Linked DNA regions of Homo sapiens. The protein of the gene in region 1 interacts with the protein of each later gene in a pairwise test. Each region holds a gene or a part of one and is shown in the gene's direction. Other genes may lie near its edges. The genes, in order: SCARF1, KRTAP5-7, GJA8 and NEMP1.

What was found.
Region 2: the proteins of SCARF1 (region 1) and KRTAP5-7 interact in binary tests that used the Homo sapiens proteins (3 or more experiments, as listed by UniProt).
Region 3: the proteins of SCARF1 (region 1) and GJA8 interact in binary tests that used the Homo sapiens proteins (3 or more experiments, as listed by UniProt).
Region 4: the proteins of SCARF1 (region 1) and NEMP1 interact in binary tests that used the Homo sapiens proteins (3 or more experiments, as listed by UniProt).

Annotation. Positions count from the first base shown.
Region 1 is NC_000017.11:1,635,729-1,642,764, reverse strand, and holds part of SCARF1 (scavenger receptor class F member 1 isoform 1 precursor), read left to right. Parts: intron 1-2,098; coding exon 2,099-2,317; intron 2,318-2,724; coding exon 2,725-2,853; intron 2,854-3,022; coding exon 3,023-3,126; intron 3,127-3,838; coding exon 3,839-3,959; intron 3,960-5,702; coding exon 5,703-5,824; intron 5,825-5,909; coding exon 5,910-6,056; intron 6,057-7,036. UniProt on the Homo sapiens protein: Mediates the binding and degradation of acetylated low density lipoprotein (Ac-LDL). Mediates heterophilic interactions, suggesting a function as adhesion protein. Plays a role in the regulation of neurite-like outgrowth.
Region 2 is NC_000011.10:71,522,993-71,529,191, forward strand, and holds KRTAP5-7 (keratin-associated protein 5-7), read left to right. Parts: upstream 1-4,274; 5' UTR 4,275-4,308; coding exon 4,309-4,806; 3' UTR 4,807-5,677; downstream 5,678-6,199. UniProt on the Homo sapiens protein: In the hair cortex, hair keratin intermediate filaments are embedded in an interfilamentous matrix, consisting of hair keratin-associated protein (KRTAP), which are essential for the formation of a rigid and resistant hair shaft through their extensive disulfide bond cross-linking with abundant cysteine residues of hair keratins.
Region 3 is NC_000001.11:147,905,784-147,909,794, forward strand, and holds the end of GJA8 (gap junction alpha-8 protein), read left to right. Parts: intron 1-1,372; exon of another isoform or gene 1,373-2,161; 5' UTR 2,162-2,172; coding exon 2,173-3,474; 3' UTR 3,475-3,486; downstream 3,487-4,011.
Region 4 is NC_000012.12:57,075,785-57,082,830, reverse strand, and holds the start of NEMP1 (nuclear envelope integral membrane protein 1 isoform a precursor), read left to right. Parts: upstream 1-4,039; 5' UTR 4,040-4,085; coding exon 4,086-4,212; intron 4,213-7,046. UniProt on the Homo sapiens protein: Together with EMD, contributes to nuclear envelope stiffness in germ cells. Required for female fertility. Essential for normal erythropoiesis. Required for efficient nuclear envelope opening and enucleation during the late stages of erythroblast maturation.

The DNA of each region.
Region 1 (7,036 bases):
CACTCCAGCCTGGGCCAGAGAGCAAGACTCCGTCTCAAACAAAACAAAACAAAAACTTTTAAAAACGCTTTGTTGCCCCAGGTCCAGCCTCACCTGCTCATTTCATTGATTACTGCTGTGCAAAATATACTAGCACTGCTAGCAAGCCATATGTAGGTAATAAGTGGATCGAGTCCAACAATGATAGACTGGGTTAAGAAAATGTGGCACATATACACCATGGAATACTATGCAGCCATAAAAAATGATGAGTTCATGTCCTTTGTAGGGACATGGAAGAAATTGGAAATCATCATTCTCAGTAAACTATCGCGAGAACAAAAAACCAAACACCGCATATTCTCACTCATAGGTGGGAGTTGAACAATGGAATCACATGGACACAGGAAGGGGAATATCACACTCTGGGGACTGTTGTGGGGTGGGGGGAGGGGGGAGGGATAGCATTGGCAGATATACTTAATGCTAGATGACGAGCTAGTGGGTGCAGCACACCAACATGGCACATGTATACGTATGTAACTAACCTGCACAATGTGCACATGTACCCTAAAACTTAAAGTATAATAATAAAAAAATATATATAAATATATTTAAAAAAAGAAAATTAAAAAAATGGTTTCTTACAAAAAAAATAATAAATAAGTGGATCGAGTGACCAAGGGTCCTGAGCAAGGTCCCTTTAGGGCTCAGTGGCTTTCAAACTTTGACTGGCTGCACTCACAGTAAGAAATTTCATCCCTGGCTGGGCGCGGTGGCTCACGCCTGTAATCCCAGCACTTTGAGAGGCCGAGGCGGGCGGATCACCTGAGGTCAGGAGTTCGAGACCAGCCTGGCTAACATGGTGAAACCTCGTCTCTACTAAAAATACAAAAATTAGCCGGGCATGGTGTTGGGCGCCTGTAATCCCAGCTACTTGGGAGGCTGAGGCAGGAGAATCACTTGAACCCGGGAGGCGGAGGTTGCAGTGAGCCAAGATCGCGCCACTGCACGCCAGCCTGGGCGACAGAGTGAGACTCAGTCTTGAAGAAAATAATAATAAAATAAAATAAGAAATAAAAATGCTGGTCAGGATCAGCTAAATGGCTTTTATAAACTGCCCTTCTTCTCCCCTACTAATGGGTCTGACCCAAGTATATGATCCCAGCTAGTTAAGCATCTGAGGGAGAAACTTCAGGTAACTATTAGGCATCAATGGGAAATTAAGATATGGCAAATGTGAAATTATATTGGTGACAACAGTGGTCTCCAACCTTTTGGCACCAGGGACTGGTTTCATGGCAGACAATTTTTCTATTATTACACTGTAATCTATAATGAAATAATAATATGACTCACCATAATATAGAATCAGTGGGAGCCCTGAGCTTGCTTTCCCGCAGCTCGAGGGTCCCATCTGGGGGTGATGGGAGACAGTGACAGATCATCAGGCATTAGATCCTCGTAAAGAGCATGGAACCTGGACCCTCCCGTGCGCAGTTCACAATAGGACTGGCGCTCCTATGAGAATCTGAGGCCACCACTGATCTGGCTGGCAGCGGAGCTCAGGCGGTCAGGCTCCCCTGCTGGTCATCTCTACGCTGTCGCCCAGTTCCTAACATGCCACGGACTAGTACCAGTCCATGGCCCAGGGTTTGAGGACCCCTGGGTGAAAACACTTTACATTTTTTGCATTTCGTGTGATGGGGTAGAAGACACTACTGAGTCCCATTCATGCCAGACCTGGGGACGGCTCAGTGTGGAAAAAGGAAAAGTGAAAAGAGCAGGAGGGAAGGCCTGGCAGACCTCGCAAATGGGACTCAGAGCTTGGTGGTGACTCGCCTGCCCTGGCTGGGCTGCTGGCTCCTGATGGTCCTGGGACCCAGGGAAAGACGGTCACAGAGCAGATGCCTGGAAGGAAAGGGATGGGATCCTGTAAGAGCCCTCATTTGTCCTCATTGTACAACGTGGGGAAACTGAGGCTCAAACCTGCCTGACCCAGGTGGGACCCGAACACTCTCCAGGGCCCCCGAAGGCCTGCGTGGAGTACAGGGGTAGGAGGGGGTGGGCGCTCCATCCATCCACCCCCACTGTTCCCACGAAGCCCTTCTCTTCCCAGCTGTGGCCGCTGCAAACACAATGAGCCGTGCTCTCCAGACACAGGCAGCTGTGAGTCCTGCGAGCCGGGCTGGAACGGGACCCAGTGCCAGCAGCCCTGCCTGCCTGGCACCTTTGGCGAGAGCTGCGAACAGCAGTGCCCTCACTGCCGACATGGGGAGGCCTGTGAGCCAGATACTGGCCACTGTCAGCGCTGTGACCCTGGCTGGCTGGGGCCCAGGTGAGGGCACCATTCTGTTCAGGGTGGGGTACACCTTCCCCCAGGACCCTCAGCTCAGCGGCTCTCTCCGAGAGCACCACCCTCCCCGACACACAGGTTCATGCGGCCCCAGGGGCCTCCCTCCTGTTGAAGACTGGGGGAGAGCAGTGGGTTCTGGGGGGGCCTGGGCAGGATCCCAGCTCCCTCCCCTCTGAGGCTTCCTGCCCTCCTCGCCCTCTGGGGACTTGTAGTCTGTCACCTGCTGGATTTGGCCCCAAGTTCAAGGCCCTATTTGCACCTGAGCTTCACTGCTGAGGAGTGGCCAGTTGGGTCCTTGAGTCCAGGAGCGTGGGGCGGAGGGGTGGGGCCCCACAGTGGGGGCCAGGCCTGCCTTGGTCTCCCCTTCCCCGAGTCTTGCCTCACCCCAGGTGTGAAGACCCCTGCCCCACTGGTACCTTTGGGGAAGACTGTGGCTCTACCTGCCCCACCTGTGTTCAGGGGTCCTGTGATACTGTGACAGGGGACTGTGTCTGCAGTGCCGGCTACTGGGGGCCCAGGTAAGGATGGGGATCCCGGGGGCGGGAGAGTGCCAGGGGCCTAGGTCAGGGCTCTGTGCAGCATTTCCTGAACTTCCCTGGACAGTGCCCAGAAATCTCCCTGCCCGTCTCCTGCCTGCCTCCCCCACTTCACCCAGCCCTCAGCCTGCCTCTCCATGTCACTCCATAGCTGCAACGCCTCCTGCCCAGCCGGTTTCCATGGAAACAACTGCTCAGTTCCTTGTGAATGCCCAGAGGGACTCTGCCACCCTGTCTCTGGGTCCTGCCAGCCAGGTAAGGTGGAAGAAGGCTGCGGGGTGCAGTAGCCAGGGAAAGGCGGGCCCTTCACATGGGCTCCAGGGCAAGTTCCTCACCAGGGAGTCTGGGCCCACTTCAGAGATATTCTTTTTTTTTTTTTTTTTTCCCTTAAGACGAGGTCTTGCTCTGTCACCCAGGCCAGAGTGCAGTGGTGTGATGTCAGCTCACTGCAACCTCCACCTCCCAGGTTCAAGCCATTCTCCCATCTCAGCCTCTCGAGTAGCTGGGATTACAGGCGCACGCCTCCATGCCTGGCTAATTTTTATATTTTAGTAGAGACAGGGTTTCACCATGTTGGCCAGGCTGGTCTCAAGCTCCTGACCTCAGGTGATCTGCCCACCTCGGCCTCCCAAAGTGCTGGGATTACAGACGTGAGCCACTGTGCCCGGCCCAGAGACATTCTTTATACCTGAGCTCTGTGTGGATGCTCTGGGGCCCCCTGAAGATGTGACAGAGCCCCCGCCCCTGCGAAACCAGGCTAGAGCCGTGAAATGGGCAGCGGGGTGGCTGGACACTGACATGGCCTCAGGGGCAAGAACCTGTGGAGGGGACACGCCAGCAGAGGGGCTGCCCGGAGGCAGGGAGTGACCCCCAGGAAGAAGCTTCTGGGTAGCAGGCAACTCAGAGCAAAGACAGGATGTGTAGGAGACAGGAAGGCCTGAATATCCCCCGTTTCTGGCTCCCCCAGGCTCTGGCAGTCGGGACACTGCCCTCATCGCGGGCAGCCTTGTGCCTCTGCTGCTGCTCTTCCTGGGCCTTGCCTGCTGTGCCTGCTGCTGCTGGGCCCCCCGATCAGACCTCAAGGACAGGTGAACGCCAGCCCGTCCCTTCCCCACACAGCTCAGGCCACAGGGTGGGAGCAGGGGGGCATCTGGTTTCCTTGTGGGGTGGGGAGGGCTGGCCTTGTTGCCCACGTGGGTCAGAGGTGATGGGGGTGGGGAGGGCTGGCCTTGTCGCCCCCGTGGGTCAGAGGTGATGGGGGTGGGGAGGGCTGGCCTTGTCGCCCACGTAGGTCAGAGGTGATGGAGGTAGTTGGCAGTGCCCGTGGCCTGGAGACACTGGAGACACCGGGTCAGCTGCCTGCCCTCCTCGGAAGCCTTCAATGAGGAAGTTTCTGAGTTGCATGGGCACCAGGCTGGCGAACCGGAGCCTGCAGCGGGAGGCAGAAAGCTGACACCGGCGGGGACCAGAGGAGGAGGGCTGGGACCACGGAAGGAGCAGCCCGGCTCTGGGCCAGGAGGGAAAGAGACCAGGCCTCAGATGGCCCACGAAGGAAAGAGACATCAATGTCTGTGCAGTGGTTTAGCAGAGAGTGTAGCTGCCTGAGAGACGGAGAGGGGAGGAAGGGTTGGGCTGGTGGGGCCCGCGCAGGGGGCTTACGCAGAGCTTTGTTCCTTTATGAAACCTCGTCACATTCCAGGCTCCTTTGAGACTCACAGCAGCGTGGAGGTTTGGAACAGGGAGTGTGGGGCCGGGAGGATAAATGTCCTCAATTCCCAGAGGACATTGAGGCCCAAGGTGATCTAGTTGGTACTGGCACACAGGAAGCCCCTCTCCACCTTTTTGGACTCTTTGTCTGGTGCTCTCTTACTAGTTCCTGCCCTAGTCCAATAGCACATCCTCCTCTGTGCTTGTGCGGCATTCACAGAGGAGCAGATACAGTTGCCCCTGGCCCAGGGCATAGAGCCCAGGGTGGGAAGAAGCCCCTCGCAGGGACACGAGGACAGGTGCAAAGGCTGTTGGAGGAACAGTGAAGAGCAGAGCAGTCTCCTCCACATGTGGGGGTAGAGCAGAGTGGGAACAAGGGAAGGCTTCCTGGAGGGGGTGTCATTTGAGACAGGTGCGCCGGGCGCAGTGACTCACGCCTGTAATCCCAGCACTTTGGGAGGCCAAGGTGAGTGGATCACCTGAGGTCAGGAGTTCAAGACCAGCCTGGCCAACATGGTGAAACCCCGTCTCTACTAAAAATACAAAATTAGCCGGGTGTGGTGGTGCACGCCTGTAATCCCAGCTACTCAGGAGGCTGAGGCAGGAGAATCACTTGAATCCAGGAGGCGAAGGTTGCGGTGAGCCAAGATCGTACCACTGCACTCCAGCCTGGGCAACAAAAGCGAGACTCTGTCCCAAAAATAGAGAGAGAGAGAGAGAGAGAAACGTGAGCTGAGGCTCAGCTAGGATGATAATAACAAAGACCTGCCAGGTCCTGCAAAAAGCTCAGATAGATGATAGATAGATGGATAGATATAGATAGATAGATAGATAGATAGATAGATAGATAGATAGATAGGATCTGTTTTACAGATGCGGAAACTGAGGCCTAGGGAGGTGAAGTGTGAACCAGAGTTGTTACTCGGCTGTCTGACTCTAGAGCCACTCTTTGTTCTGTGGCAGGCCTGAATTGTGGGCTCAATCATTTGGATTTTATTCTGTAGTCAATAGAGAGCCACTGAAGCCACTGAAGTAGAGGCAGTCACCCTGTCACACCCTGCCAAGGTGACCCAGGTCACCGTGGGTCTCATGTACTGACCAGTGTCCCTACCCTCCTCCCTCAGGCCAGCGAGAGATGGAGCTACCGTGTCCAGGATGAAGCTGCAGGTCTGGGGGACACTGACCAGCTTGGGCTCCACGCTGCCCTGCCGTTCCCTCAGCTCCCACAAGCTACCCTGGGTGACAGGTCAGTGGGCGCTGGGGGCCGGGGTCTGGGATTGGACAGGGCTTTGCATCAGGTCCTGCAGGCGCCTGATCTGGAGTCTCTACAGTCTCACATCACGACCCGGAGGTCCCCTTCAACCACAGCTTCATCGAGCCGCCCTCTGCCGGCTGGGCCACTGATGACTCCTTCTCATCCGATCCTGAGTCTGGAGAGGCAGATGAGGTTCCTGCCTACTGTGTGCCACCCCAAGAAGGTAGCCCCCCAACAGCCCACATAGCCCCTGAGCAGCCCTGCCCACCACGACCCCCTCTTTAGTCCTCCAGCAAAGTTATTTATTTTTATTTTTTTTTGAGACTGGGTCTTGCTCTGTCGCCAGGCTGGAGTGCAGTGGTGCGATCTCAGCTCACTGCAACCTCTGCCTCCCGGGTTCAAGTGATTCCCCTGCCTCAGCCTCCCAAATAGCTGGGATTACAGGCGTGCACCACCACACACGGCTAATTTTTATATTTTAGTAGAGACCGGGTTTCACCGTGTTAGCCAGGATCGTGATCCACCCGCCTCAGCCTCCCAGAGTGCTGGGATTACAGGCATGAGCCACTGCGCCTGGCCAGCAAACAGTTATTAAGGGCCCATTTTGTGTTAGTCACTGTTCTTGGCTCCGGGCATGCAAGAGATAACAAGACAGATTCCTATCCTCACCAGGCTTAGAGTCAGATGGGCAGTCATCAGACAATGACAGGACACAGTGATATGTGTTTCCATGGGGGACATACAAGTAGGGACTCATTTGCTAGCCATGTTGGGGTGACTGGGGTCAGGGACGATGTGTGTGGCATCCCAGTCGAGTCTAGCAGAATCAGTAGGAGTTGGCCAAGTGAAAGTCAGGGAGAGGAGGGAATGGTGTTTCAGGAAGATGGAACAGCATACACAAAGGCCCAGAGGTGAGAGGGATGTGGCTGTGTGCCATCGAAAGAGTTTTAGCTTGGTAAGAGTGTGACAGTATTTCAAAGTAGGGAGAGGTGGTGAGAAAAGAGTATAGAGACCAGGTGTGGTGACTCACACCTGTGATCCCAGCACTTTGGGAGGCTGAGGCGGGAGGACTGCTTGAGGCCAGGGGTTTGATACCAGCCTGGCCAACATAGTGAGACCCCATCTCTACAATTAAAAAAAAAAAAAGTGTAGAAGTAACAGTGTCTACCTGAATTGGTCCTTCTGCCACTCTCCTCATCCTTG
Region 2 (6,199 bases), on another chromosome or scaffold:
ATGCTGAGGACATGCTGCTGTATTCTTGGGCGAGTACATTGGTGACATGCTGCTGTGTTCTTAGGTGAGTACACTGGTGAAACAATGCCCAATCGCACGGCCAAGAGATTTGAGGAGCAGGGACATCTGGTAAGCAGACTTCAGTTTCTTTTCAGTAATGTGCCCCTCTTATGCTCTCCTCAGGGTTTAGCATGCATCCCTTAAACAAAGAAAGTAGCCTCATATAAGCAATGGTTTTGTGACTAGAGTGCCTCAGTCCATTATTGCTGCTATAAGATAATAATTGACCTGGGTAATTGATAAAGAACAGAAATGTACTTTCTCAGAGTCCTGAAGGCTGGGAAGTCCAAGATCAAGGTGCTGATATCTGGTGTGGGCCTTCTTACTGTGTCTTCACATATTGGAAGGCAGAAGGGCAAGAGAGCATGAATATGTTGTCCTCACATGGCAGAAGAACAGAAAGGGGTGAATGCCCTCTCTCAAGTCCTTCTTGGAGCAGCACTAATTCATTCCAAGTACCTTTTGTTAGGCCCCACCTCCCAACACTCTTGCATTGGGGATGAAGTTTCTAATACATGAATTTTGGGGGACACATGCAGACCATGGCATAAAGGAACCTCTCTCCCCACATGGAGTACAACTGAGCAGGGAACCCAGCTGAGCAGCTGAAGTAAGCAGCCTAAGAGGAGTGAACACTCTGCCTGGGGAAGAGAGAAAACAACAGCAGAGAGACTTGTGAGATTTTCAGAAATAATTGAGTAGGGGAAAAGATTCCCCACAAACAACAAGATGAGGATAGATTATTCTTATTTGGATAGGAAAGGAAAGGATATTGTCTGGGTGCAGTGGCTCACACCTGCAATCCCAGCACTTTGGGAGGCCAAGGTAGGAGGATCACTGGAGGCCAGGAGTTTGAGACCAGCCAGAGCAACATGGCAAGGCCCCATCTCTACAAAAAGTTTAAAAGTTAGCTGGGTATGGTGATACATGCCTATATTCCCAGCTACCTAGGAGGCCAAGGCGGGAAGATTCCTTAAGCCCAGAAGTTTGAAGGTGCAGTAAGCTGTGGTCACGTCACTGCAATCCAGCCCAGGTGACAGAGGAAGACTTCATCTAAAAAAAAAAAAGTGATCCCCAGTAATATAGTTTGCATGCTTCCTCCAAATCTTATGTTGGTGGGGCCTGCTGGGAGGTGTTTGGATCATGGGTGTAGATTTTTCATGAATGGTTTAGCACCATCTCCTTGGTGATGAATAAGTTCGAGCAAGATCTGGTTGTTTAAAAATATGTGGCACTGACCAGGCATGGTGGCTCATGCATGTCATCTCAACACTTTGGGAGGCTGAGGTGGGCAGATCACCTGAGGTCAGGAGTTCGAGACCAGCCTGACCAACAGGGAGAAACCCTGTCTCTACTAAAAATACAAAATTAGCCAGGTGTGGTGGTGCATGCCTGTACTCCCAGCTATTCGGGAGGCTGAGGCAGGAGAATCACTTGAACCTGGGAAGCGGAGGTTGCGGTGAGCCGAGATCATGCCATTGTACTCCAGCCTGAGTAACAAGAGCAAAACTCCATCTCAAAAAAAAAATGTGTGGCCTCTGTCCCTCCACCAGCTCTCTCTTTCTCAGCTGTCACCATGTGGCATGCCTGCTCCTGCTTTGCCTTCTACCATGAATAAAAGCTCCCTGAGGGCCTCACCAGAAGCTGAGCAGATGTCGGTGCCATGCTTGTACAACTAGCAGAACCAGGAGCCAATTAAACCTTTTTTATTTATAAATTACCCAGCCTCAGATATTTCTTTATGGCAACACAAAAAATACAGAAAACTGTACCAGGAATGGTATGTTGCTATAAAGTCACCTGAAAATGTGGAGGTGACTTTGGAACTGGGTAATGGCCAGAGATTGGAAGATTTTTGGAGGGCTCAGAAGAAGACAGAAAGATGAGGAAAAGGTGGGAACTCCTTTGAGACTGGTTAAATGGTTGTGTCCAAAATAATTAAAGTGATAAGAACAATGAAGTCCAGCCTGATGAGGTCTCAGATGGAAATGAGGAACTTACTGAAAACTAAAACAAAGATCACTTGTGTTACACCTTGGCAGAGAGCTTGACCATATTGTGCTTCATGCCCTAGGGGGCTCTGAAAATTTCTACTTAGGAGTGATGACTTAGGATATCTAGTGGAAGAAATTTCTAAGCAGCAAACATTCAAGCTGTGGCCTGACTGAATCTAACATCGTATTCTCACATGCAAGAGCACATAAATGAATTAAAGTTGGAATTTATATTTAAAAGGGAATCAAAGTGTAAAAGTTTGGAAACTTTGCAGCATGGCCATGTGGCAGAGAATGAAAAAGCATTATCAGGAGAGGAATCCAAGCAGGCTATAGAGCAACCACCTGCTAGAGATATTAGCATGACTCAAAAAACAAACAAAAAAACCCAAGTGCTAATAGCCAACACAATTGGAAAAGACTTCAAATGCATTTCAAAAGTGTTTGAGACAGCCCCTCTCATCACTGACCTAGAGGTCTAGGAGGACACCATGGTTTCAGGGGCTCACCCCAGGCCCTCACTGCCCTGCATAGCCTTGGAGCACTGCTCCCCACACATAGGCTACTCCAGCTCCAGCCTCAGCTCAAAAGACCCCAAATGTAACTCTGGCTTCAGAGGGTGCAAGCCATAAGCCTTGGTAGCTCCCATGTGGTGTTAAGCCTGTAGGTGCGTAGAATACAAGAGTGAAGGAGGCTTGGGATCCTCTACCTAGATTGCAGAGGATTTATGAGAAAGCCTGGGCACTCAGGCAGAAGCCTGCTGCAGGGGCAGAGCCCGCACAGAGGATATATACTAGGGCAGTGTAGAGGGGAAATGTGGAGTAGGAGGCCCACACAGAGTCCCCACTGGGGCATTGCTTAATTGAGCTGTGGGGAGGAGGACACCATCCTCCAGGCCCCAGAATGGTAGAGCCACTGGCAGCTTACATCTTGAGCATGGAGAAGCTGCAGGCACACAACTCCAACCCATGAGAGCAGCTGCAGGGTGCGAACCTTGCAAAGCCACAAGGGTGGAGTTCCCCAAGGCCTTAGGAGCCCACCCCTCACTCCAGTGTACCCTGGATGTGGGACTGGGAGTCCAAGGACATTATTTTGGAGCTTTAAGATTTAATGGCTGCCCTGCTGGATTTCAGACATGCATGGGGTCTGTAGCCCCTTCCTTTGGGCTGATTTCTCCCTTTTGGAATGGGAATGTTTACCCAATGCCTCCACCCTCATGTATCTTCAAAGTAAATAATGTGTTTTGATTTTCACAAGTTCATTGGTGGAAGGGACTTGGACTTGGGACTTTGGACTTGATGTTGGAATGAGTCAAGACATTGAGAGGACTGTTGGGAAGAGATGATTCTATTCTGCAATGTAAGGACATGAGATTTGAGGGGTCAAGGGGATAATGATACAGTTGGGATGTCCCCTCCAAATCTCTTGTCGAAATGTAATCCCCAGTGTTGAAGGAGGGGCCTGCAAGGAGGTGTTTAGGTCATGGGGGCGGATCCCTCATGACTGGCTTAGCGCCATCTCCTTGGTGATGAGTGTGTTCACTCAGATCTGGTTGTTCGCAAGTGTGTGGCCCCTCCTCACCCCTTGCTCCCACTCTCACGATGTGGTGAGCCTGCTCCTGCTTCACCTTCCACCATGAGGAAAAGCTCCCTGAGGGCCTGCCCAGAAGCTGAGCAGAGGTGGGTGCCATGCTTGTGCAGCCTGCAGAACCATGAGCCATTCTAACCTTTCCTTTATAAATTACCCAGCTTCAAGTATTTCTTTAGAGCAATGCAAAACTGAGAATGGCATGAGTAAAATATAAAGACCATGGATAATTTTGAAATCTAAAAATGTGAAATTAATATTCCTGGGGGAGTCAACACAGGAAAGATGAGAGCACGTGGGCAAAGGCTGTTGCCCATTGGTCACATGTGGTCAGCAGAGAGCAGGTGACCAGCACCCTGGAGCTTTGCGGGAAGCACCAGACAGCCTGGAGCTGAGGTTTCAATTGTAGGGGCCAAAACAAATAGGGAAAAAGACAAATTTAGTAAACAAAGAAAGTAGATGCTCAACTGAGCCAGGAGGAAGTCACTAGCAAAGAGGAAAAAAAATAGAGCTCTGGAAAAATAGCGTAAACAGTCACAAGGAAGCGACCCTGTATTGTGCCTGACCTCTGGACAGGTATATAAAGAGCCCGGGCTCAGGGGGCTCCACACCTGCACCTCCCTCTCACCTGCTCCTCTACCTGCTCCACCCTCAATCCACCAGAACCATGGGCTGCTGTGGCTGTTCCGAAGGCTGTGGCTCCGGCTGTGGGGGCTGTGGCTCCGGCTGTGGGGGCTGTGGCTCTGGCTGTGGGGGATGTGGCTCCAGCTGCTGTGTGCCCGTCTGCTGCTGCAAGCCCGTGTGCTGCTGTGTGCCAGCCTGTTCCTGCTCCAGCTGTGGCTCCTGTGGGGGCTCCAAGGGAGGCTGTGGCTCCTGTGGGGGCTCCAAGGGGGGCTGTGGCTCTTGTGGGGGTTCTAAGGGGGGCTGTGGTTCTTGTGGCTGCTCCCAGTGCAGCTGCTATAAGCCCTGCTGCTGCTCCTCAGGCTGTGGGTCATCCTGCTGCCAGTCCAGCTGCTGTAAGCCCTGCTGCTGCCAGTCCAGCTGCTGTAAGCCCTGCTGCTGTTCCTCAGGCTGTGGGTCATCCTGCTGCCAGTCCAGTTGCTGCAATCCCTGCTGCTCCCAGTCTAGCTGCTGTGTCCCCGTGTGCTGCCAGTGTAAGATCTGAGGCTCTGGACTCAGGTCTCATGTGAGTCCTGCTAACCCCATTTTCCGAAGCTGTGACCTGTCCTTCATCGTTGAGCCCCAAACCACTGCTCAGGGTCCATTCCTCACTATAAGATGAAGCCATATCTGCCTGCCTTTTCCTAAGGAGAGTCCACCCTAATTAATGTCCATTCCCTCCTAACAAATTCTCTTCCCAAGTCAACTGCAACTGCGGCTGAATCACCCCTCACCCGCTAGCCTTGCCTTTGCTTGTGTATTCAGAGGCCTGAGCTCCTGAACCCACTTGAAGTCCTGTCTTTTCCAGCTGGAGCAGCTGGGCATGAGTGTCCCACCTGCAACAAGGTGGGCGTTTAAGAGGCTTCCTTGGAGTGGCTTTGCCTGTCCAACACTCTGCTTTATCTTAAATGAAAAGTTGCAAACTAATAAAAATACCATGCCGACAAACTGAAACACATATCTTGCTGATTTCTCTGTTGTTCGGGGTCATTACTATGGCTATGGCTATTGTTTTCTTGTTCTTGTTGTGTTTCGGACTGCGTGGGTCTGATGCTGATGTTGCTGGAAGGTGCTAGGATGGGGCTGGCTGTCTCCTCTGCCTCTCATCTCCTTCCTGGCTGACCCCTCTTTTCTCAGAACCCCTCTCTTCCTAGGTCTTTCCAGCTATTGATCTGATGGAGACAGGACTGTTCCTCAGGCCAGGGCCACAGAAGCAGAAGAGGCTGCTGAAAACTCTGGGGAGTTCAGACTTGCCTCCTTTCCCTGGTCCAGGCCTCTGCCATCTTCCTTTGGGAAGTTTTTGTAACCAACTTACTCTGATTGTCTTTGTTGTTACACAGCCTGTTGCCTCTGTAAATAAACACTCCTAGCACCAAGCCAATATTGCTTTTTAAGAATTTTGAAAGGGCCGGGCGTAGTGGCTCACGCCTATAATCCCAGCACTTTGGGAGGCCGAGGCAGGCGGATCACTTGAGGTTAGGAGTTTGCGACCTGACTGGCCAACATGGTGAAACCCTGTCTCTACTAAAAATATAAAAATTAGCTGAGTGTGGTGGCACGTGTCTGTAATCCTGGCTACTTCGGAGGCTGAGGGAGGAGAATGGCTTCAACCTGGGAGGGGGAGGTTGTGATGAGTCGAGGTCGCGCCACTGCACTCCATTCTGGGCGACAGAGCAAGACTCCGTCAAAAAAAAAAAAAGGCAATATTAATAGAGTTGAATTATTTCAAGTTATTTGGAAACACAGCAATTTATTGGTGGGATATGTCCTAAGCATAGAAAGAACACAAAAATAAAATTCCTAAGCTATTTTTAGTAGTCATGGTGGCAGCAGTGGTGTCGTTATTCTGCTGTGAATGCTGTATGGAAAAAGCAAATGCATAATTAGGTTGGTATCAG
Region 3 (4,011 bases), on another chromosome or scaffold:
GGTTCCGATTCCGAGCTGCTGGGTCCTTCCCCCTCTCCATTACCCATTTCTCCAAGGAACTCTTCCCAATGCCAGACCCATGACTGGGGATGCCACAGCTGCTGTCACTTTTTCAGGAGAAGAGAAGCTGCTGCAGGATGCCCTGCCTGATTGGGAGCTTATGAGGCCTCAAGAGGAGGAGCACTCTCTGCTCTCCCACAAGAAGCGAACAGCTATTGTGCCTGCCCTGACAGCACAGGCTGGACATTGCAGATGCCTGCAATTAGTATCCTGCCACCAGGTTCTGTCTGGCCAGACTCCAAATCACAGGTTGGAAATAGGCTTTTGTGTTTAACAAATATCACTGTGATTAAAAAACAATAGGCATATCCCTTTAGCCCCATAGGTTCCTAGGCCTATAGCATGGGGCATGGCTAGAAGAAGCCCAGAGCAAGATCCTCTAACATGGGCTCTTGCCCTGGTCTGAGGGCAGTGATGAGTAAACTTATAACTCTAGAGATGTTCAAGCTGCAGGAACAACTGTTCTCCATTGAGGTGGAAGTTTTGCTCATCATTCTTTATAGGTTACAGGTTTGCACTGGATGAATGACCCAGTTGCAGCCAGCCCCTTGTCAGCTCAATGCCATTTCCATTAGCCATTGCTGTGCTACAGGCATTATATACTATCATGTTTAACGATATTTTTTCTATAGACCAAATTTTTGACTCTATTAAAACAGCCATATGTTACAGACCCTGAAACATTTTCATTCCATAGGACACTAAAAGTGTCCTAGAAGACCTTCCTCATCCTGTGACATGATTCCTTCCCAAAGCATTCTCTCTGTTCTTTGGATTTAAAAGAGTAATAATAAAAATATACGGCCCTCAATGTGTAAAGCTATTAATAAGGGTTTCCAGATTTCAACCTAGAGAAGAGGAAACATAAATTAAGAGCACAGAAGTCAAAGAATTGTGTAGCTTTGATTGCAGGCAGTTTATCTCAATGGTGTAGTGGGAAGAACCCAGCCTTTGTGATCAAGCAAACAGAACTGCTGCTATTTAGCTGTCTAATCTTGGACAATATATTTAGCCTCTCTGAGCCTCAGATTTCTTTTTTCTTTTTTTTCTTTTTCCTTTGAGACAGGGTCTTTCTCTGTTGCCCAGGATGGAGTATAGTGGCACATATCAGGGTTCACTGCAACCTCGACCTCCCAGGCTCAAGCAATCTTCCTGGCTCAGCCTCCCAAGTAGCTGGGAACACAGGCATGCACCACCGAGCCCAGCTAGTTTTTAAAGTTTTTTGTAGAGATGGGGTCTCACTGTGTTGCCCAGGCTAGTCTCTATCTCCTGGGCTCAAGTGATTCTCTTGCCCTGGCCTCCCAAAGTTCTAGGATTACAGGCATGAGCCACTGTGCCTGGCCTTCAGTTTTCTTATTTGTTGGAATCAACTTAGTTAACAAATACTTATCAAGTTCTCACTGTGTGCTGGGCTGTATGTCAGGCATTGAGTATATAGCTGTAAATAAGACAGGCATGGCTCCTACCGTCATGGAAATTACAGTCTAGCAGGATCAAGTTAAATGAAATAATATAATGTCAAAGTTCTTTCACAAAGTTGGTATTCAATAAATGCTAATCCCCTTCCACTTCCCTTCAAATATACGATCATTATATATTCTGACACTCAAACATAAGATGGCCACAGACAATTTCATACATACAAGAATTGTGTTGGGAGCCCAGACACCCATAGTATAAGGGAACTCTTCAGCATTATGTCTCACGAAACTTAGATCAGTGTGTGGTCTTGATTTAAATCCATGTAACCAAGGGTTTCTATTTATGGTCAACAATGAATCCTTATTTTTGGTGGACTTTAAGGAATTATACAAATATTGCCTCATTGATGCTTTCAGACCATTTGTGAAGTGAATGAGAATAGGTATTATTATTATTAAACCCATTTTACAGATGAGGAAGCGGATGGAAGCACATTCTTCGGGGCCTTCTTTGTTCTCTAGTCCTAGTCTGCACAAAGGAAGCACTGGATAGACGCTGTGTGCACATTGACCGTTCTGGCAACTTGGAAAGGAGAGGTACCCCGCGTTAGCAAAAACAGATATTGACTCAGGGTTGCATTGCGGCCGCTCAGCTCTTGCCTTCTCCCTCATTTCTTCAGGTGGGTGAGAAATGGGCGACTGGAGTTTCCTGGGGAACATCTTGGAGGAGGTGAATGAGCACTCCACCGTCATCGGCAGAGTCTGGCTCACCGTGCTTTTCATCTTCCGGATCCTCATCCTTGGCACGGCCGCAGAGTTCGTGTGGGGGGATGAGCAATCCGACTTCGTGTGCAACACCCAGCAGCCTGGCTGCGAGAACGTCTGCTACGACGAGGCCTTTCCCATCTCCCACATTCGCCTCTGGGTGCTGCAGATCATCTTCGTCTCCACCCCGTCCCTGATGTACGTGGGGCACGCGGTGCACTACGTCCGCATGGAGGAGAAGCGCAAAAGCCGCGAGGCGGAGGAGCTGGGCCAGCAGGCGGGGACTAACGGCGGCCCGGACCAGGGCAGCGTCAAGAAGAGCAGCGGCAGCAAAGGCACTAAGAAGTTCCGGCTGGAGGGGACCCTGCTGAGGACCTACATCTGCCACATCATCTTCAAGACCCTCTTTGAAGTGGGCTTCATCGTGGGCCACTACTTCCTGTACGGGTTCCGGATCCTGCCTCTGTACCGCTGCAGCCGGTGGCCCTGCCCCAATGTGGTGGACTGCTTCGTGTCCCGGCCCACGGAGAAAACCATCTTCATCCTGTTCATGTTGTCTGTGGCCTCTGTGTCCCTATTCCTCAACGTGATGGAGTTGGGCCACCTGGGCCTGAAGGGGATCCGGTCTGCCTTGAAGAGGCCTGTAGAGCAGCCCCTGGGGGAGATTCCTGAGAAATCCCTCCACTCCATTGCTGTCTCCTCCATCCAGAAAGCCAAGGGCTATCAGCTCCTAGAAGAAGAGAAAATCGTTTCCCACTATTTCCCCTTGACCGAGGTTGGGATGGTGGAGACCAGCCCACTGCCTGCCAAGCCTTTCAATCAGTTCGAGGAGAAGATCAGCACAGGACCCCTGGGGGACTTGTCCCGGGGCTACCAAGAGACACTGCCTTCCTACGCTCAGGTGGGGGCACAAGAAGTGGAGGGCGAGGGGCCGCCTGCAGAGGAGGGAGCCGAACCCGAGGTGGGAGAGAAGAAGGAGGAAGCAGAGAGGCTGACCACGGAGGAGCAGGAGAAGGTGGCCGTGCCAGAGGGGGAGAAAGTAGAGACCCCCGGAGTGGATAAGGAGGGTGAAAAAGAAGAGCCGCAGTCGGAGAAGGTGTCAAAGCAAGGGCTGCCAGCTGAGAAGACACCTTCACTCTGTCCAGAGCTGACAACAGATGATGCCAGACCCCTGAGCAGGCTAAGCAAAGCCAGCAGCCGAGCCAGGTCAGACGATCTAACCGTATGAAGTGACGCCAAAGAAAAAAAAAAAAACGCCCAAGCTTACGTAGGGCAAGATGAAAGGAACAGGTGCCAACATGATCTGAATCTTCTGTCTCCTGTCCTCCCACCAGCCTCTGGTTGGACAGGCACTGCAGCAGGGCAGTGCACTCCAGGCAACTCTAGGAAACAGTCTTTCCCACATCCAGCATAAGGGCTACCAAGATAAACCCATCGACCCACTAAAGTTCCCCAGTCTCATAGGACTACCCCGCTCCTCCAACCCCAGCAGCTATGGGTGACTCTTCTTTCATCCCCATTTCTCCATAGAAACCCTTAAATCGGAATTGGGGTTGCCTCATAGCCTTTTACCCATCTTGTCTCAAGCTCACTAAGCCAGAATCTATCATCCCAGCATTTCTGAAGCAGATACCATGTGACCATATTTCAGGGATCCAGACTCAAAAGCCTACAGAATACAGACAGGTGACATAAGTTGCAAGACAGGCCTGTTCTAATGCAAGGGAGAGAATGGGGCTGTGAAAGTTGGAAAGCAGGGGCAGCT
Region 4 (7,046 bases), on another chromosome or scaffold:
TATGTTGCCCAGGCTGGTCTCAAACTCCTAGGCTCAAGTGATCCACCTGCCTCGGCCTCCCAAGACATTGGGATTACAGGCATGAGCCACTGCACCTGCCCAATTTATTCATTTTTTTAGCAACAAGGTCTTACTCTGTCACCCAGGGTGGAGTGCAGAGGCATGATCATGGCTCACTGCAGGCTCAACCTCCCAGACTCAAGTGATCGTCCCATCTCAGCCTCCTGAGCAGCTGGGACTACAGGCACGTGCCAACACACTTGGCTAATTTTTGTATTTTTGTAAAGACAGAGTCCTACTATGTTGCCCAGGCTGGTCTTGAATTCCTGGGCTCAAGCCATCCTCAGACCCGGTCTCCTAAAGTGCTGGGATCACAGGTGTGAACCACTGAGGCTAGCCAACTTTATTTTTAGAAACATTACATGTACAGAAAAATTGAAAAGATAATATGGTGAATTCCTATATACCCTACATTCAATTTCCTCAATTATTATCTGACATTAGTATGGTACATTTAGCACCATTAATGAAACAGTATTGAAACATTATTATTAACTAAAGTCTACAGTTTATTCAGATTTCCTTTGAGTTTTTGTTGTTGTTGTTGTTGTTTAGACTGAGTCTTACTCTGTCACCGGGCTGGAGTGCAGTGGCACTGATCTTGGCTCACTGCTGCAACCTCCGCCTCCCAGGTTCAAGTGATTCTCCTGCCTCAGCCTCCTGAGTAGCTGGGTTTACAGGTGCCCGCCATACGCCCAGCTAATTTTTGTATTTTTAGTAGAGACGGGGTTTCACTATGGTGGCCAGGCTGGTCTTGAACTCCTGATCTCGTGATTCGCCCGCCTTGGCCTCCCAAAGTGCTGGGATTACAGGCGTGAGCCACCATGCTCAGCCTCCGTGTTTTTTTTTGTTTTCTTATTTTTTGAGACGGAGTCTTGCTCTGTCGCCCAGGCTGGAGTGCAGTGGAGCGATCTCAGCTCACTGCAAGTTCCGCCTCCCAGGTTCACACCACTCTCCTGCCTCAGCCTCCTGAGTAGCTGGGACTACAGGTACCTGCCACCACGCCCGACTAATTTTTTTTATTTTTAGTAGAGACGGGGTTTCACCATGTTAGCCAGGATGGTCTCCATCTCCTGACCTCATGATCCGCCCGCCTCAGCCTCCCAAAGTGCTGGGATTACAGGCATGAGCCACCGTGCCCAGCCTCGTTTTTTTAAACTAATGTGTTTTTCTGTTCCAGGATCCCATCTAGACCACCACATTATGTTTAGTTCTCAAAAACATAATGGGCTGGGCATGGTGGCTCATGCCTGTAATCCCAGCACTTCGGGAGGCCGAGGCGGGCAAATCACCTGAGGTCGGGAGTTCAAGACCAGCTTGACCAACATGGAGAAACCCCATCTCTACTAAAAATATGAAATTAGCTGGGCGGGGTGGCACACACCTGTAATCCCAGCTACTTGGGAGGCTGAGGCAGGAGAATCGCTTGAACCTGGGAGGGGGAGGTTGCGGTGAGCCAAGTTTGTGCCATTGCACTCCAGCCTGCTCAACAAGAGTGAAACTCTGTCTCAAAAAACAAAAACAAAAAAGCCCATAATGATGTTTGGATGACTTTGACAGCTTTGAGGAGTACTGGTCAGGTATTTTGTAGGATGCCTCTATTGGAATTTGTCTAATGTTTTTCTCAAGATTAGAGTGGTGTTATGGGTTTTGGGAAGGAAAACCACAGAGTTAAAATGCCATTTTCATCTCATGTTATCAAGGGTACATAGTATCAACATGATTGATGCTGACTTCCCTAGGTCAGCTGAGGGAGTGTGTGTGTGAAATACAGGATGACCATATCAGCACTGTTGGCCTAGACTTTTCCTTCTGAGAATGAAATCTCTTCTCTTGCCCATAGCTCAGCCCCATTTTGACTTTTTTTTTTTTTTTTTGAGACAAGAGAGGCTCGCTCTGTCACCCAGGCTGGAGTGAAGTGGCATGATCTCGGCTCACTGCAACCTCTGCCTCCTGGGCTCAAGCAATTCTTCTGTCTCAGACTCCTAAGTAGCTGGGATTACAGGAACCTGCCACCATGCTGGGCTAATTTTTGTATTTTTATTAGAGATAGGGTTTTGCTGTGTTGGCCAGGCTGGTCTCGAACTTCTGGCCTCAAGTGATCCTCCCACCTCAACCTCCCAAAAGTGCTGGGATTACAGGCATGAGCCACCATGCCCAGCCCATTTTGACTTTTTTTTTTTTTCTCTTTTGAGACAGAGTCTTGCTCTGTCACCCAGTCTGGAGTGCAATGGGGCGATCTTGGCTCACTGCAGCCTCCGCCTCCTGGGTTCAAGGGATTCTCCTGCCTCAGCCTCCTGAGTAGCTGGGCTTACAGCCACCTACCACCATGCCTGGCTAATTTTTGTATTTTTAGTAGAGACGGGGTTTTGCCATGTTGGCCAGGCTGGTCTCGAACTCCTGACCTCAGTTGATCCACCCGCCTCGGACTCCCAAAGTGTTAGGATTACAGACCTGAGCCACCATGCCCGGCCCATTTTGACTTTTAAAAAGGTCCTTGTTTTAGACCAGGTGCAGTAGCTTACTCCTGTAATTTCAGTAATTTGGGAGGCCAAGGTGGGATAATCACTTGAGGCCAGGAGTTTGAGGTCAGCCTGGGCAACATAGCAAGATATTGTCTCTACAAAAAGTAATTAAAAAAAATTAAGCCAGACATAGTGGCTCATGCCTGTAGTCCCAGCTACTTGGGAGATTGAAGTGGGAGGATCATTTGATCCTGGGAGTTCGAGGCTGCAGTGAGCTGTGGTTACACCACTGCATTCCAGAAGGGTTACAGAAGGAGACCTTGTCTCAATAACAACAACAACAACAACAACAACAATGAAACAAACAAATAGCTGGGCATGGTGGTGCATCCCTGTAGCCCAACCTATCTAGGAAGCTGAGGTGGGAAGATGGTTTAAGTCCAGGAATTCAAGGTTACACTGAGCTGTGATGGTGCTGTTGCACTCCAGCTTGGGTGTCAGAGAATGACCCTGTCTCTAAAAACATTAAAAAAAAAAATTCTTGTTTTGAAAGCTTGAACCTTCCCCAGGAGATGCCCCCTTCCTTGAATTCCTCAATTCATTTGGCTCTATCATCTGTAGTTTTCCTACCCATCACCATCAGATCCTCTTAAAAAAAAAGTTTCAATTTCTACTAACAGTTTCTGAACACCTGGATCTCTGCTGGGCCCTGTGTTAAATCATTGAATGGGAAGCAGCTAATCCATATAAATAACTCCGGCTTTGGAGTCAGTAGGATTTAGGTTGGGATCACAGACCAGATGAACTATGAAATCTTGGGCAGGTTCCTGTGGCTGTCTTGGCTTTGGCTTCTTAAATGGAGAGAATTATATTTGTCTCACAAGATGATAAGAGGAATAAATGAATCTTTCTTAATCCTAACATTAATTTTACTTCCAAAAATAAAAATCCTATGAATACATTTTTAAAAGCTAATGTTTATGCTTATAAAATATTGACACACACTTTTTTGTGACTTCTATTTTAAATCCTTTAGGACTTTGGAGAACCACACTTTTGTCAGTCGACTTTAAAAATCGTCCTATCAGGGTCCTACTCATAAAGCGATCTCAATTGTAGGCGTCTCATAACAGAAAGGTCGTGATAAAAAGTAACCGAAAGAAAACGGAAGGAACTTCAGACAGCTTCTATGGAAATACCGAGTTTGGTCAAGGAGGCCTCTCCCATTCCGATTTTCTATTGGTTAAACTTACCATCAATCACACCAGTTGTAAATAAACTGAAGACGGAAGCATGTTGTTAGCGGGGTGGGATCTTCCTGTCGCCACTGCTAGGGTGAGAACCCATTTTCCAATAGGCTGAAAGCTGCTTTTCCCGCCCTCTCTCTTCAGTTGCTAAGGGGCGGGACTCATAGGGCCCTTGGAGGGCTGGGTGCTCGAAGCCCTGCCCATCCCATTGGTTGATAGGGGCGGGTTTCGTAGAGGATAGGCTGCTGTCGTTGCCCGTTCGGAGTTAGTTGCTGGGGTAAGGCACGTGAGGAGGAGGTGGCTTGAGGCAACCATGGCGGGAGGAATGAAAGTGGCGGTCTCGCCGGCAGTTGGTCCCGGGCCCTGGGGCTCGGGAGTCGGGGGCGGTGGGACAGTGCGGCTACTCTTGATCCTCTCCGGCTGCTTGGTCTACGGCACAGGTACCGCCCGGGCAGCAGCTGCCAAGGGGGCAGGTGCCGAGGGGGTTATTTTTGGAAAAGGGATTGTCCCGAGGGCGCGGGCCGTTACTCTGCAGAAGGGCGGTGGCTCTACCGAGGGCCGCCGGCGTAGTGTGGTGGAAGAAACTTGGCAGGCTAGTGGGCGTCGGGACTGAGGGTCTGGGCCCTGAAGCGGGCTGGGGCAGCTTCCAGAGTGGGGAGGAGCCTGAAGCCTTTTGGCGGAGACAGGAAGGGAGGCCTAGACTGGTTGAGAAGCAGTCCTGGGGGCTGTGTCTCGTTGCAGAAGCCTTGAGTTTCTTGGTTAAAAGCGAGAAAACCTGGGGACCATTCTGGGCAGGCAGAGCAGCCGCGGGAAAGGGACCATCTCATTCATTCGGCAAATCAGCAAACACCATCTGAGCGTATGCTCTGTCAGGACGCAGGGCACGGGTGGCAGAACGGATGTAGTTGACAGAAATGCAGTGATCTCTACTATCTTCTGCTCTTGTAAAACCTTGATTCCTTACCGCCCCCGGCCCGCGAGATGGAGTCTAGCTCTGTCACTCAGGCTGGAGTGCAGTGGTGCGATCTCGCTCACTGCAACCTCCGCCTCCTGGGTTCAAGCAATTCTCCTGCTTCAGCCTCCGGAGTAGCTGGGATTACAGGCACCCGCCACCGCGCCCGGCTAATTTTTGTATTTTTAGTAGAAATGGGGTTTCACTATGTTGGCCAGGGTGGTCTCGAACTCCTGACCTCGTGATCCATCCGCCTTGGCCCTCCCAAAGTGCTGGGATTACAGGTGTGAGCCACCGTGACCGGCCAAATAATGCATGTTTATTTTAGATGATTTGGCAAGGTACAATTAAGTATAAAGAAGCAGGCAGAAACCACACTGTTAATCCATTCAGAAGCAATCTATTTTAGCACACTTTCTTCTGATCTTTTTCCACATATTTTTAATTTTTTATGAATTGATAATTTGTATCCAGTTAGTACTCTAGTTCTCTTCCCTGGAGGCTGCCAGTCGTTACCAGAGATAGTTTTCTCGTTTGATTTTGTAGTACAATAATTTTCCCAAGTAATTTAAAATTCTTTTTTTGTTTTTTTGTTTGTTTGTTTGTTTGAGATGGAGTTTTGCTCTTGTTGCCCAGGCTGGAGTGCAGTGGTGCAATCTCAGCTCACTGCAACCTCCGCCTCCTGGGTTTAAATGATTCTCCTGCCTCAGCCTCCTGAGTAGCTGGGATTACACTTGCCCGCCACCACGCCCGGCTAATTTTTTTTTTTTTTTTTTAAACAGAGTCTCCCTCTTTCGCGCAGGCTGGAGTGCAGTGGCCAGATCTCGGCTCACTGCAAGCTCCGCCTCCCAGGTTCACGCCATTCTCCTGCCTCAGCCTCCCGAGTAGCTGGGACTACAGGCGCCCACCACCACGCCCGGCTAATTTTTTGTATTTTTAGTAGAGAGGGGGTTTCACCGTGTTAGCCAGGATGGTCTTGATCTCCTGACCTCGTGATCCGCCCGCCTCGGCCTCCCAAAGTGCTGGGATTACAGGCATGAGCCTCCACACCCGGCCTTAAAATTCTTTGTAAATGTTGTCTTACTTGTATTACATTCCAATGTATGTGCAGATGTTCATTTAATTTTTTTTCTCCACCCCCCGCCCGCCCCGCCCCGCAGAATGTAGTCTTGCTGTCTGGCCCAGGCTGGAGTGCAGTGGTGCAATCTCGGTTCCTGTTTCAAGCCATTCTCCCATCTCAGCCTCCCAAGTAGCTGGGACTACAGGCATGTGCCACCACACTCGGCTAATTTTTTTTTTTTTGAGACAGAGTTTCGCCCTCGTTGCCTAGGCTGGAGTGCAATGGCACTATCTAGGCTCACTGCAACCTCAGCCTCCAGAGTTCAAGCACTTCTCCCTCTGCCTCCCGAGTAGCTGGGATTATAGGCGCATGCCACCATGCCTGGCTAACTTTTTGTATTTTTTGTACAGACGGGGTTTCACCAGGCTGGCCAGGCTGGTCTCAAACTCCTGACCTCGTGATCTGCCCACCTCAGCCTCCCAAAGTGCTGGGATTACAGGCGTGAGCCACCACGCCCAGCCACACTCAGCTAATTTTGTATTTTTAGTAGAGATGGGGTTTCACCATGTTGGCTAGGTTGGTCTCGAACTCCTGACCTCAGGTGTTCCGCCCGCCTCAGCCTACCAAAGTACTGGGATTACAGGCGTGAGCCACCATGCCTGGCCTTCATTTATTATTTTTTAGTGACGTGGTTTTGCTGTGACACCCAGGCTAGAGTGCAGTGCACAATCATAGCTCACTGTAACTTCCCACCTCGGTCTCCCCAAGTAGCTGGGACTACAGGCACGTGCCATCTGCCTGGTAAAAATCATTATTAATGTTGTGGATTAAACATTTGGTTGGATATTGGTGGTTTGTACTGTTGGTTGGATATTTGTGGTATTTCTAGTTTTTCATTGTTGTAAGTTTGTGAACATCTTTGTGTATACATTTTTATTTATTTATTTATTTATTTTTTTGAGATGGAGTCTTGCTCTGTTGCCCAGGCTGGAGTGCAGTGGTGCCATCTCGGCCACCTAGGTTCAAGCGATTCTCCTACCTCACCCTCCCGAGTAGCTGGGATTACAGGTGTGTGCCACCATGCCCGGGTAATTTTTTTGTATTTTTAGTAGAGTGGGATTTCGCCATGTTGGCCAGGCTGGTCTCAAACTCCTGACCTCAAGTGATCTGCCCGCCTCAGCCTCCCAAAGTGCTGGGATTACAGGTGTGTGCCACCATGCCCGGGTAATTTTTTTGTATTTTTAGTAGAGTGGGATTTCGCC